3 separate regions of the Homo sapiens genome follow, and all the other regions are reported to be linked to region 3. The links are microRNA targets in miRTarBase. Many come from high-throughput screens and were not tested one by one. Region 3 holds a microRNA gene; each other region holds the end of a gene's coding sequence.

What was found. Region 3 holds the annotated microRNA hsa-miR-6811-3p (AGCCUGUGCUUGUCCCUGCAG, at 1,928-1,948, opposite strand). A microRNA usually pairs through its seed, bases 2 to 8, with sites in the 3' UTR of a target mRNA and lowers its output. Matches are read on the target gene's strand: a 7mer-m8 pairs with bases 2 to 8, a 7mer-A1 pairs with bases 2 to 7 and ends in A, and an 8mer does both.
Region 1: miRTarBase lists TAX1BP3 as a target of hsa-miR-6811-3p. Seed matches in the 3' UTR shown: 7mer-m8 at 3,255-3,261.
Region 2: miRTarBase lists TMEM216 as a target of hsa-miR-6811-3p. The part of its 3' UTR that is shown has no 7-base or 8-base seed match.

The regions. Positions count from the first base shown.
Region 1 is chr17:3,660,232-3,664,329 of GRCh38, forward strand. TAX1BP3 (Tax1 binding protein 3) reads right to left here. Exons shown (of 4, transcript NM_014604.4): 3 at 3,964-4,041; 4 at 2,664-3,654. The coding sequence ends at 3,517. CTNS (cystinosin, lysosomal cystine transporter) reads left to right here. Exons shown (of 12, transcript NM_004937.3): 12 at 5-2,872. The coding sequence ends at 138. It overlaps P2RX5-TAX1BP3 (P2RX5-TAX1BP3 readthrough (NMD candidate)), which reads right to left. Exons shown (of 15, transcript NR_037928.1): 14 at 3,964-4,041; 15 at 2,662-3,654. Among named protein-coding and RNA genes, the nearest start is that of TAX1BP3, 6.3 kb to the right of the region's middle.
Region 2 is chr11:61,397,506-61,401,603 of GRCh38, forward strand. TMEM216 (transmembrane protein 216) reads left to right here. Exons shown (of 5, transcript NM_001173990.3): 4 at 269-470; 5 at 765-1,341. The coding sequence ends at 771. Among named protein-coding and RNA genes, the nearest start is that of TMEM216, 7.0 kb to the left of the region's middle.
Region 3 is chr2:237,508,818-237,512,915 of GRCh38, reverse strand. It overlaps MIR6811 (microRNA 6811), which reads right to left and starts at 1,985; the gene lies at 1,928-1,985. It overlaps MLPH (melanophilin), which reads right to left. Exons shown (of 16, transcript NM_024101.7): 3 at 2,121-2,342; 4 at 1,815-1,927. RefSeq lists enhancers at 1-133, 1,514-2,014, 2,015-2,515.

The sequences.
Region 1 (4,098 bases), not on the chromosome of region 3:
ACAGACCAGTGGACGCTGATCTTCGGAGACCCAACCAAGTTTGGACTCGGGGTCTTCTCCATCGTCTTCGACGTCGTCTTCTTCATCCAGCACTTCTGTTTGTACAGAAAGAGACCGGGGTATGACCAGCTGAACTAGCACCCAGGGACCCAGTGTACCCAGCCTCTGGCCTCGTGCCCTGCTGGGGAAGGCCTCACCCAGCGAAGGCCGGAGAAGCGGTTGGGCCCTGGCACACAGGGCTGGCTCAGTGTGCGGACAGAGGAGACCACTCTGCTCCTGGGGCCAGAGGCCATTCAATAGCCTGCCTTCGTCCGGGCCCCTCCTGGGCCTCCCCGGCCAGGCACGTGGCACCGTCGCCTTGACACCGCCATCTCTTTTCTTTAAGGCTTCAGGCAGCGCGCACAGGCTCTGGCAGCCGTCTCAGGCAGGACTGGGCACCAAGCTTGCAGCCGAAGGCCTTGCCCCAAACTACCAGCGTTTCTGCAAGCAGCTTGAAGGGCTGACCTTGCAGCCGGGTGAGCCAAGGGCACTTTGCTGCCACCGCTGCATTCCCAGAGATCAAGCAGCCCGGTGCCGTGGCCAGTGAACTCAGAGGTGCTGGTGGACGGGCTAGGACTTTGGGGTTAGGCCATGGGGCTCTTTCTCTGAAGGCCACTTTCCTGACGTACTCTCTGTACATAACTCAGCGTCCGTGACTGCAGTAACAGCCAGCCCTACCCAGAGTATTTCTGAGCCATGAGGGGCCCACCAGATTGGTTCTGAATTGGATTCATGCCCAGCGCATTAGCATAGTAACTCCTTTCAGATTTTTTGGAGGGACGTTTGGAAGTGGCTTACTCTCTTCTGCCCTCTCTCCTACCTCCACCTTCTCAGATTAGCCCCATCTGAGCACATCCAGCTGCTCCTTACCCAGCATCTGGAGTACAGGACATAGCTCTCTCCTGCTACCAGTCTGTGCCTTAGAGGTCTGTTAGGCCTGCCAAACGGCGACCAGCTCCCCTGGAGCGAGGGCAGGCCCCTTCCCTCTCTTTCCCCAGACACCTACTTGAGACTCACCAATTTCTGGCCTGTTCAGGAGCCTCAGATAAGTATTTGTACTTGAGACCACCTCACACAATCTGTATGGGCCCAACCCTGATCTCAAACCTCCTTCCCTCTGCCCAAAGCTGTCCTTCCTATGGCAGGAGGGGTGGGGGTCCCAGGACGTGCCTCATACATGACTTGAGCTTGTCAGTCCACTGAGTTTCCTTCTACGAGATCAACGCGAGGGGCCTGTATCTTGAATTAAAACCTACTCGCTTCCTTTCTGCACTCTGTGTGCTCGATACAGAAGGCAGGTGTGCTGGCCTTCAGAGCCAGGTGCCCTGCTCCCCTCGTGTAAGGAAGCGCATAAGGTTGTGAAGGTCACTGACCCGAGAGCGCTGCGTGCTGACCCCACACTTCACTGGGGAGCCCTCTTGGGTAGCGCGAGACGCCTACCCGCCCAGGGCCAGGTCAGTCTCCCAGGCTCCGTGTCTTCACGGTTACCAGGGCACGCCACTCAATCTGGATGTGAGCCGGGGTGGATGAGGTTCTGAAGGGCACACCAGCACTGGGAGCGGGGGCAGTGGGGGTCTTATTCTCCAGACGCTTCCTCTATCTAGTTGTAACAAACGTCAAAGAATGTCAGGTCTTGTTTCTGCAGAGCAGACTTTGGCCTGACGGGGTCCACAGACCTGTTTCACTTGCAACACCCAGTAAATGTGTTACTGGGTGCCCTACTTTAAAAATCAGAGATTTCAAATGATTGACTTTTCCGGCTGAGTGCGGTGGCTCACGCCTGTAATCCCAGCACTTTGGGAGGCCAAGGCAGATGGATCACCTGACATCAGGAGTTCGAGACCAGCCTAGCCAACATTGCAAAACCCCATCTCTACTAAAGATACAAAAATTAGCTGGGCATGGTGGCGGGCACCTGTAATCCCAGCTACTTGGTTGGCTGAGGCAGGAGAATTACTTGAACCCAGGAGGCGGAGGTTGCAGTGAGCGAAGATCACGCCATTGCACTCCAGCCTGGGCAACAAGAACGAAACTCCATCTCAAAAAAAAAAAAAAATTATTGACTTTTCTTTAAAATCTGATTTGGCAGTGCTAGGTAGGTCCAGGAGTGCTAACACCTTCCCAGAGGTGGTACGCAGGTAGTCAGGTGCTCTCTGACTCACCCCCATCTGGCCAGATCACGGCCCCCAGCAACACGTGGGGTTGTGTCCCTCGCTGGGATACACGGAGTGCCCTTATAGGCAGGGAGTCTTATAGGCAGGGGTCTCTCCCAGGCACCTCTGGGTGTCCCTACGGCCCCTCCCAGGTGGGAGCTGAGGCTAGGTTGCAAAAAGGAGGTTGGGAGCAAGTAGGGGCTTCACAGTAACACCCAAGAAAGCACACGCACCCCAGGGTCCCACCCCAGTGCTCCCAGACACTCCCACAGATGTGGTTCTGGTCAGGCGCAGTGCAGCTGCTGCGGCTCCACCAGCCCCGGGCTTTCAGGCAGGTGGGCCTGGGAGTAGTTGAGCTTTGTCCCAGAACAGTGGGGGATGGGGCCATCATTAAAACCACAGCTCTGGCCCCAATATCCCACCGCCACCCCCACCCCGATATCCCAGCCCATGCCTCAGCAAAGCCCCCTGTGAATTCCAGCATTTTTATTGAGCGCACCACATCGGGGAGGGGCGGCAGTGGTTTCCACGGTAACCAAAGTAAGGCTTGTGCACTTGCTGAGCTTCCAGATGCGAATTAGTAAAAGCTAAATTCAAAAGTAGAATGGGCATCTCCAAAGAGTACGATAAAAACATTTTGTATCAAACTTGTGATTAAAAAAATACAAAAGTTAAACCCACAGGCAAAGAGGAAAATGACAATCCTGAGAGCTGCCCTGATAGGTGAGCCTCGAACCTCGTCTAAATCCGTAAGAAGGCAAACCCTGGGGAGGCCAGCACCCCTCGGGAGAGTGGGAGTGAACGCGGAGCCCACCTGGCTTCATCTGGGCAAAGCTTCGTAGCGCCTCTGGCAGGATGTGTGTCCAGTCCCCCGAGGGGCAGAGGCACTGCGGTGTGGACACACGAGGGCTGGGGGGCAGGGGCGGAGCCGAACCCTGCAGCCAGGCAAAAGCGGGAAAGGCCTGGTTCCTCCAGCATTTCCCAGCTTTTGGGGGCTCCCAAGAGATAGTGGTTCCCACTTGCCCAGCCACTGCTGTGGCCAAGCAGCAGGGTCGGACCTGAGCCTGTGGTCACAGCAGACTGGCTACTACTCAGCTCCAGGCCCTTATTTCCAATCCTCGGTGTCCAGGAGAGAAAGCCGGTCCCAGAGGCCCCAGGCCAGGGATGGGAGAAGGGAAGGAAGGCCAGGCCAGGCCTCTGGGACCAGCTATAGCCCTTCTGAGCTGGGGCCCAGCGGTCAGCAGAAGCCAGATGGGGACAGAGTGTGGAAGTGGCGTTACTGTACAGAGAGGCGGCAGGCAGGAGTCGCAGATGGTGGTGGCTGCTAGGACAGCATGGACTGCTGCACGGCCTTCTGCAGCGACTGCCGCGTCACCAGCAGACGCACCACCTCCTCCGAGCGCTTGGTGAGCCGCTTGCGGGCCTGGTCGTGTGTGACCATGGTCATGTCCCAGCCGTTCACCTGGCCCCAGGAGAGAACACAGGCTCACCTCAGCTCCCCGCCCTCTGGGATCTGGAAGCAGAGGGCTTTGGGGGCCCAGGTCATTCAAGTAGGCCCCCAGCCTAACATCCCAGGGCTGGGAGACACCAAGCACTGTGGCTGAGACACACAGGAGAGAAAGCCAGCGTCCTCTGGGGCAATGCCAGTATGGGTTCCCAATTGGCTGCAGTGAGTCTCTCCCAGCTGGGAGGCTGGGGCAGCTCCCCACCCCCAAGTGCTTCAGACCTGCTTGCCCAAACCTTGTTTCTCCTCCTTTGGGACACCTGTTACCTGCATGATCTTGTCTCCAATCTGCAGCCCAGCGATTTCAGCAGGGCCTCCTTCAGACACCCGTGTGACATAAATACCCTGGAAAGGGGCAGCCCAAGTCAAGCCCTGTGGTCACTGGACTGGCCCCTTATCACA
Region 2 (4,098 bases), not on the chromosome of region 3:
TAAAAATTTTGTTTTTCCCAAATAAAGATCCCATTGTCCCTTGAGTGGGAACCAGACTGGAAGCAGGACCTCTGGATTAAGTGACTTTAATCTTGTAGCTCTCCTAAGCCTCAAACTTTTAGTACAGTGGGACCCCATTTATAAATCTGCACACCCCCACTCAGGATTATTTTTTGTGCCTTGCCATTCCATCACATCTCCCACGCCTTTCCCCTGGGCCAGGAAAAGCAGACCATTTGGAGATGACTCCATGGGCTGTGTCTGACAGGTACAAAGGGAAACCTCTGCCAGCGAAAGATGCCGCTCAGTATTAGCGTGGCCTTGACCTTCCCATCTGCCATGATGGCCTCCTATTACCTGCTGCTGCAGACCTACGTACTCCGCCTGGAAGCCATCATGAATGGCATCTTGCTCTTCTTCTGTGGCTCAGAGCTTTTACTTGAGGTGCTCACCTTGGCTGCTTTCTCCAGGTACTGCTGCTGAGGGACCATTTCTCATCACTAGAGGGTTGGGTTCCCATCCCAGGGAGGGATTCAGTATTCTTCTGAAGCCTAAGGGGTCTAGAAGACTTTTTTCTAGAGGGAGGAAGGGGTGGCTATGGGATTGCCTTTCCTGTTTAGGGTAGGTAGATCGTTTCCCACTCAGGGAAGATACTCTCCCTATCCTTTGGGGCCAGGAGGCTTGGAATATAGAACAGTCGAGGCCAGCTGCTCTCATTCACTGGTCTTTTAACATTTTCTTTCTTTCTGCCATCGTATGGACAGGATTTGAAGTACAGAATTTCAGCCAGCAGCCCATCAGGCTGACACCACACATATTGCTTCTGGTACTTTAGCCACACCAGTGAGAATTGGTGGGGCAAGTTGTCCTGAGAAAGGCTGTGTGGCTTTTCTTCAGCACAGACATTTGGGCAAGCAACTCAGCATAAGGCCAGTGGGTACCATCTTCTAAACCAGGACCATCAGCCCAAGAGACTCTTCTACACTCCAGTATAGGGAGGGGCAAGGTTATTCCCATCCTGCCCCTTCTCAGAACCAGTCCCCTGCTGACCTCAAGTTCTCCTCCTTGATCACCGTGGCCAGAGCATCTCGTGTGGACCATCTAGGCTCCTTGGGCTTCAAGCAGGACCTGAGCCACATGCTCCCTGTACGAGCTGTGCTATACCTGTCCCACATGAGCACGGAGAGCCTCATGTTGGTGGGTTTCCAGAGTGATGTGAAAGCCTCTCACCCCAATCCTCGGAGACTGAGTTCCACAACTTTTTTAGTAGCTCATAGTGTTATTTTTCTACTCTCTTCATGAAACTAACTTTATTTTATAATAAATATGTATTTTCTGTTGTGGGGGTTGCAGCCTTTCCTTATGGCACCTGTCCCTAGAATTCATCCACTCCAAGAGAGGGTCATGACTATCCCAGCAGTTTGTTCTCAGGAGCTTTGCTTAGTGATACAGTGTGGACAAAAGGCAGTGATGACCACTGATTTTCTTCCCCAAGCTGCAGCCTAAATTAAACCCTAAATGCACTGCCATCCTCTGTATCTTCAAGTCTCTCGTCATGCAAAAGACTGCTTATTTGCTTCACTCTGCCCCAAAGTCAGCATCTTGTCTCACTCCTCTTACAGATAATTGTTAGCTTTTTTCCAGTGGGCCATGTGAAACTGGAAGAAGCATATTCTAAACTAACTTTTTTTTTTTTTTTAATTTTGGAGACAGTGTCTCAGTCTGTCATCCAGGCTGCAGTGCAGTGGCATGATCTTGGCTCACTGCAACCTCTGCCTCCCTAGCTCACGTGATCCTCCCACATCAGCCTCTCAAGTAGCTGGGACTACAGGCACACACCACCATGCCTGGCTTTTTTTTTTTTTTTTTGAGACGGAGTCTCGCTCTGTCACCTAGACTGGAGTACAGTGGCATGATCTCGGCTCACTGCAACCTCCGCCTCCTGGGTTCAAGTGATTCTTCTGCCTCAGCCTCCCGAGTAGCTGGGAATACAGGTGTGCACCACCATGCCGGGCTAATTTTTTTTTGTATTTTTAGTAGAGACGGGGTTTCACCATGCTGGCCAGGCTGGTCTCAAACTCCTGACCTCGTGGTCTGCCTGCTGGCCTACCAAAGTGCTGGGATTACAGGCATGAGCCACCGTGCCCAGCCCACTAATTTTTGTATTTATTGTAGAGATGGGGTCTTTGTTGCTCAGGCTGGTCTGTAACTCCTGGGCTCAAGCGATCCTCCCGCCTCTACCTCCTAATGTGCTCGGATTATAGGTGTGAGCCACTGCAACCAGCTGATGTTTTTTTTTTTTTTTTTTTGGTCATTTATTTTAGTATTTTGAGGCCTGGCACAGTGGCTTACACTTGTGATCCCAACATTTTGGGAGGCTGAAGCAGGAGGATTGCATGATTCCAGGAATTTGTGACCAGCCTGGGTAATATGGTGAGAACCTTGTCTCTACAAAAAATTTAAAAACAAGCCAGGTGTGGTGATGCGCACCTGTAGTCCCAGCTATTCAGGAGGCTGTGGCAGGAGGATAGCTTGAGCCCAGGAGGTCAAGACTGTAGTGAGCTATGTTTGTACCACTGTACTCCAGCCTGTGCAGGAGTGAGACCCTGTCTCAAAAATAAAATTTTGAGTCAACATAAAAGGAACACTTTTTTTTTTTTTTAAGCTGGAGAACTGTCACTCTAGATCAATGTATACTTTCTTTCTCCAAGTAAGCATCTTTAAAATTATTCCTCATTTCCTTGGTAGTGGCCATGTTTTTTAATTCCAAGAAGCCACGAGGAGCCATGACGGAATCCACTTCAGAAAACCTTGAGGCTCTTCTGTTTTCAGATGAATCCTAGATTATCTGCTCTTACTCGAAGTAAAATGTAACTTTAAGCATTCTATGCTGGCTTTAACTCTTACTTTCTATGATCAAGCTCATTCTTATCCTGAGGGGCTCTGCTGTCCAAAGCACTGATGTTTTTTCTTGTTTCCTACCCCTTCTGTGCCCTTGCCTCCCAGTTGCCCTTGGGGACTATCCAAAAACCAGAGTAGACAGGTCTAATCAGCCATGACACAGTAACAAAACCTTCAATAGGAACTGCCCTGATAATTACAAATCCCACTAATACCAATTTTCTGCTACTTTCTCCCTGTGTTGAAGAAATCGCTGGTATCAAACTGGAAGAGAGCCCATTCTGTATGGCCTATTTAGAGGTTCACTGGTTAAGCTCACTGCCACAGCAATATAAATGATTGGAAGGCTCAATTGGAAGTTGAAGGGTGCCTTATAAAATCCATTAGAATTTAAAGACCTATTTTAGAGATGAACCAAGTCTTACCCCCGACTTTGCAGGCTTAGAGATGAGAAGTGACATAACCAGCACCACACATCTGGTTATTAACAGGTGGAACTAGAAATCTTGCCTTAGGAGTCTGTCTGGATCAAGGAAATTCCATTTCCTCATACTTGAGAATGAGGATGATGGTTGAAAATGAGGCTGTGATTAGGAATAGGAAGTCCTCTCATTTACTGGGTGGTTATGTGGAAGTTTAGTGCATTGTGCTTCCTGTGGGTTGCGTGATAAATGTTCATTTTTCCTGATGCTTGTTGGAACCACCTGTGTAGATGCAGTTAGTCACATAATTAGGACATACAACAGAAACTGAGGCAGTGGAGGCCTGGCACAGTGGCTTACACTTGTGATCCCAACATTTTGGGATCACAGAAATCAGTGTAGCTAGTCTTTCAGATTTATCGTGGCCAGAGGCTGTGCTCACTAGAGTCAAGGGAAGCTGCTTTACAGTCCACACAGAGCTGGAGGTACCAAAATTCTGGGACAGTGGAGAGAACTGAGCAAAGCAACAGGCCCTGGTCATAAGCTTGGCAGAGGCCTGCTCAGCTACTCACACTCATGGCTAGAACCAGCAAGTGACTGCAGTGGTCTCGCCCAGTTTAGGAAGCATTTAGGGCAGATTGATTCTAGCTCCATACCATGGCAGCAGCTTGTGGAGACTACTAATCATCCAGTGCCTGGCAAAGTGTATTTCATTCATATAATGATCCTATGAGGCAGAAGGAAATTAATCAGATGTTAAGTCATGTGTCCAAGG
Region 3 (4,098 bases):
TGGTGATGATTTTGAAGTCAGCAGGTTCTGGTGGGCCGTGTGAACTCCAGCAGCTCTGGGCTGAGCTGTGGAAACACTGCGTCCTTTGAAATAATACAGCTTCCTGAGCCCACCCCAGTCCCTAAAGACTGCCTCTGGGGTTGAGATTCTGAGATGCTTGACAGCATGGCTTTTCCCGGTGTTATGTGTCGTTTCTATCCTTAAGCCTGTTAGGGGTGGACTGGAGGCTGGACCAAGCTCCACTGGCTGCAGGAGGACCCTTCTGTGGGCTCCAGGCTGGCCGTGTGCGTGTGGGGAGGTGGGATTTGCTGCTAGGCTTCATGATCACTGTGAAGAAGCAGCCCCCAAGAATAGGGTGATAGGCCCTCCCCATGTCACCGGCCGTTCCTAGTCACATCTGTTGTTGCAGCATGTTATCAGTAGAGCCTCCTTTTACTCTTAAAAATGCCCTGGTTTGGATGATTGATCATACCTGCCCCCATCCCCACCCCACCACCCAAAAAGTGCAGCCACCCTGTGGTGTGCGGTGTACTGCTCCAGCGGTGCCTCTCCGTGGCCTCTGTCCTAAATTAAACGATGGGCTAAGATGCCTTGAAATGCCTGCAGCAGGCCCGGCGAGAGCTTGAATGCTCAAAGGTGTCTATGCCAACTTCTGCTTCTTCAATCAAACTTGAGGCTTTAAGAGACAGGCACGAATAAGGTGTCTCTCCAGAAGGAAGGCCTGGGGGAGACGCCTGGGCTGGGGCATGGTGAGGACGCCCCAATCCAGAAGCACAGCCTCTGCCCTGGACGTGCCCAGCTGCCGGAGCCAGGCGCTGCCTCGTGGCCCTGGAGAAACTCGCCTTGGTCTTGCAGATGGAGTCATCCAGGACACTGAGACCCCAGACACCTGGCTTGGTGGCGGCTGTCCCACCCGAATGCTTGGCCGGGCTTAGTGGCAGAAGCCTTGGACTCCAGGTAACAGGGACAAGGTGAGCTTTCTCAAAAACACTGATGGGTTAGCTCCCTTCAAACTCAAATGCAAAAGACCCCCCGGCATCCTCCCACCCTCTCCCTGAAAAGATCTCTTCCAAATGCCTTATGGGGGATCTTACAGGCGAACACATTGTTTAGTTTAAGCCTACTGCCTGGATTTCAAATTCATCATGAAATAAATACTTGGATTCAAAAGATGAAAACAACTGAATTACAACAGATTTCTCTAAATCTTGATAATCACCAGATTCATGTGAAATGTTTGTTGAAAAGAGAGAGCCTAGGCCCCAAACCAGATGTCCCAGGGAAGAAGGGCTTGGAAAACATGTAGTATTAACAAGCACCCTGGTGATTCAATCAGCAGCTGGGTTTCAGAAACTTGGCTTTGAGTTCTCAACTTACTTTGAAGATTTGAAAACAATATAATTTCAAATATTGGCAACTTCAGCAGCACCCAGGACTTCTGAGGTGCTCAGACCAGGCCAGTGGGATGCAGAGGTTTGCACCTCACATAAAAAGGAGCCAATTTCACAGGGCACAGTGGCTCACACTTATAACCCCAGCACTTCGGGAGGCTGAGGTGGGTGGATTGCTTGAGCCCAGGAGTTCGAGGCCAGTCTGGGAAACATGGTGAGATGCCTGTCTCTACAAAAATTAAAAAAAAAAAAAAAAAGCAGCCAGAAGCAGGAATTCACAGAGAGGCATGTGCATGCACACACATGTGCACACACACATGCACACACACACGTACACACACACATGCACACTCCAAAGGAACCTGCTTTAATATTCCTAAAATGCCTGGGAACAAAAAGCCGTTCTTACTCTCCACTCCTTACCTCCACCCTGCAGCCGCCCGTGGAGGGACCGGATGACCTTGGCACTTCCGAACCTCTTGAAGCGGGCTTTCACATGCTCATAGTACCACTCCAGTGAGCCGATCTTCACGACTCTGCAGGGACAAGCACAGGCTCATGGCACTGCCTGAGTGCTGTACACAGGCCTGCATAAATCTCACACACACACACACACACACACACGAGTGTGTGCATGTGTGCGTCCACCCTTCTTCAGCTAGCCCCATGGAAGGGACACGCCAGATCCAGAAACTATCAAGGTCATTTTACCTCAAGGCCTGGGCTCACCTGGCCAGATGGCAGGGGTCACAGATCCAGCCCTGCTCCTCCGGGTGGACGCGGCCACAGCTTTTGCAGGTGAAGAGGCCACATTCCAGGCACTGCCTTTTGCTATTCACAAGCAGCTGGTAGGGCTGCAGGCAGCGGGCGCAGTGGGTCTCGTTCAGATGGGCAGTGTCGGAAAGCAGCTCCCTCTTGGAGCTTTCCTTCTTAATCTTGCCCTTCAACGCCCTTGGGAAAATATCAGAAACAAGAAATATATTGGGCATCTTGTTTTTGCAACAGGCTTTAAGTGTGTACACGTACATACACACACACACAGACACAGACACATACACACACACAGTAACTGTCTCCTATGCAGAAAACAGTGACCCAACGTTGGGCAAAGCCACACAGGCATCTTTGTTTTGAGGGCTGAGCTCAAACGGGCAATTTTGGTGGCTGGAATGGAATGGAAACACGTTAATTTCATAGAAATGATATTGCATTTAAGCATTTCTGTGGCTGTTTACAATTGTACCAATTTTGGTTGGCAGGTCACTGCGCCCTCCCCAGGGCAGTCACAGAATCCTGGGGGCAAAGCCAGATGGTGTTTCCTGATCAAGCATTGTTTTGGTCTCCTTCAGCAGGGGGGCAAGAGTTGAGCTAACGCCCCAGGTTTGCTCCTCTAGAGCGCAGCTGAAATGGCTCGGTGAGTTTCCAGAGCAGGAATCATCTAGCACCCGGAAGTCTACAGTTCTCCTAGACCATCCGAGTTTAAATAACACAGCTTCCTGGTGAACCTGCCAAGTTGAACTGATTGGAAAGTGTATCCTTAGATGATAATGAACACATTTCTTTTGTTCTAGATTTCAGAGAATGTCTGCCAAACGTAATATTTTCAGTTTCAGATGAGATAAAATTAATCCATTCTTAGTGACAAAAACAAGAAGGACACTAGGTGCCATTGTCTTCTGAGAACTCTGAAGCACACTGATTTGGAGGCGGACACCCAGAGTGCAGCAAAGGTGAAGAGAGTGGAGGAGTCCCACCAGGCAGGGGGAGGCCACCTCCGGTTTCAAGTGCAATTGGCTGAACTTCACGATTTTCCTCTCTCCACTATTTACAAAAATGTTCACTGAGATGGACACGAAATCAGGCTCTTGTCATAGCTTCAAAAACCAAGAGAAAAAGGGTCAAGCAGTTGTAGGAATCTAGGGGGATACCGCCATCCACAGACTACAGTTTAGATAAAGCTGCATTGACAAGGTAAAGTCTTTGTCCCAAACAGAGGAGCACAAGTCCCTGGAGCCAGATGGGAAGGGCCTCACTCCCTCCATTTCCACCCTTGCCAGCTCTGCACCAACCAGAAAACCTGGAGGCCACCCCTTCGCTGGACAGGGCTTGTTAGCCTCTGTCCCAGGGAGAACCTCTTCTTCTGTATCCAGGCAGAACGGTACCCTGAGGGCCAGCACAGCAGGAAGAAAGACAAGGACATGTGTACTGCCCTGCATTCCAGGCTGGAGGAGTCCTCTTAAATAAGAGCCCAGAAGTGTCCTGGGGCAGCAGCTGGAGGCTGATATATTTCAGAGGCTGAAATTAGGGGAAAGGAGAACTGTACTGTGCTTTAGATTCTTTAAAACATAACTTCCCTTCTTCATAGCCAGAGACCAGGAAGGGAGGGCAGAGAAGACTCCATTTGGGGAGACCAAATGACATCTGCCAGCCACTCCAGGACGTATCAACAAGACCCGGAGCTTCCGATCCTGAGGAGTGAATGGGGCCAGAGCACTCCATGCACTCTGCTAATTGGGTTGACCAGAAGTCACTCCTCAACAGGCAAGAGCCCGGCACGTGGCTCCAATTTAAAGTTAGCTTCAGGAATAAAAGACCCTCCTGAATGTGACTTACCATCAGAAACAGACTCGAAACAAGTCAGCTTGGTGTGCTGAATGGGGCATAAGCAAGTACGTGCAGTCTCAATGAGAGGGACAGAGGAGACACA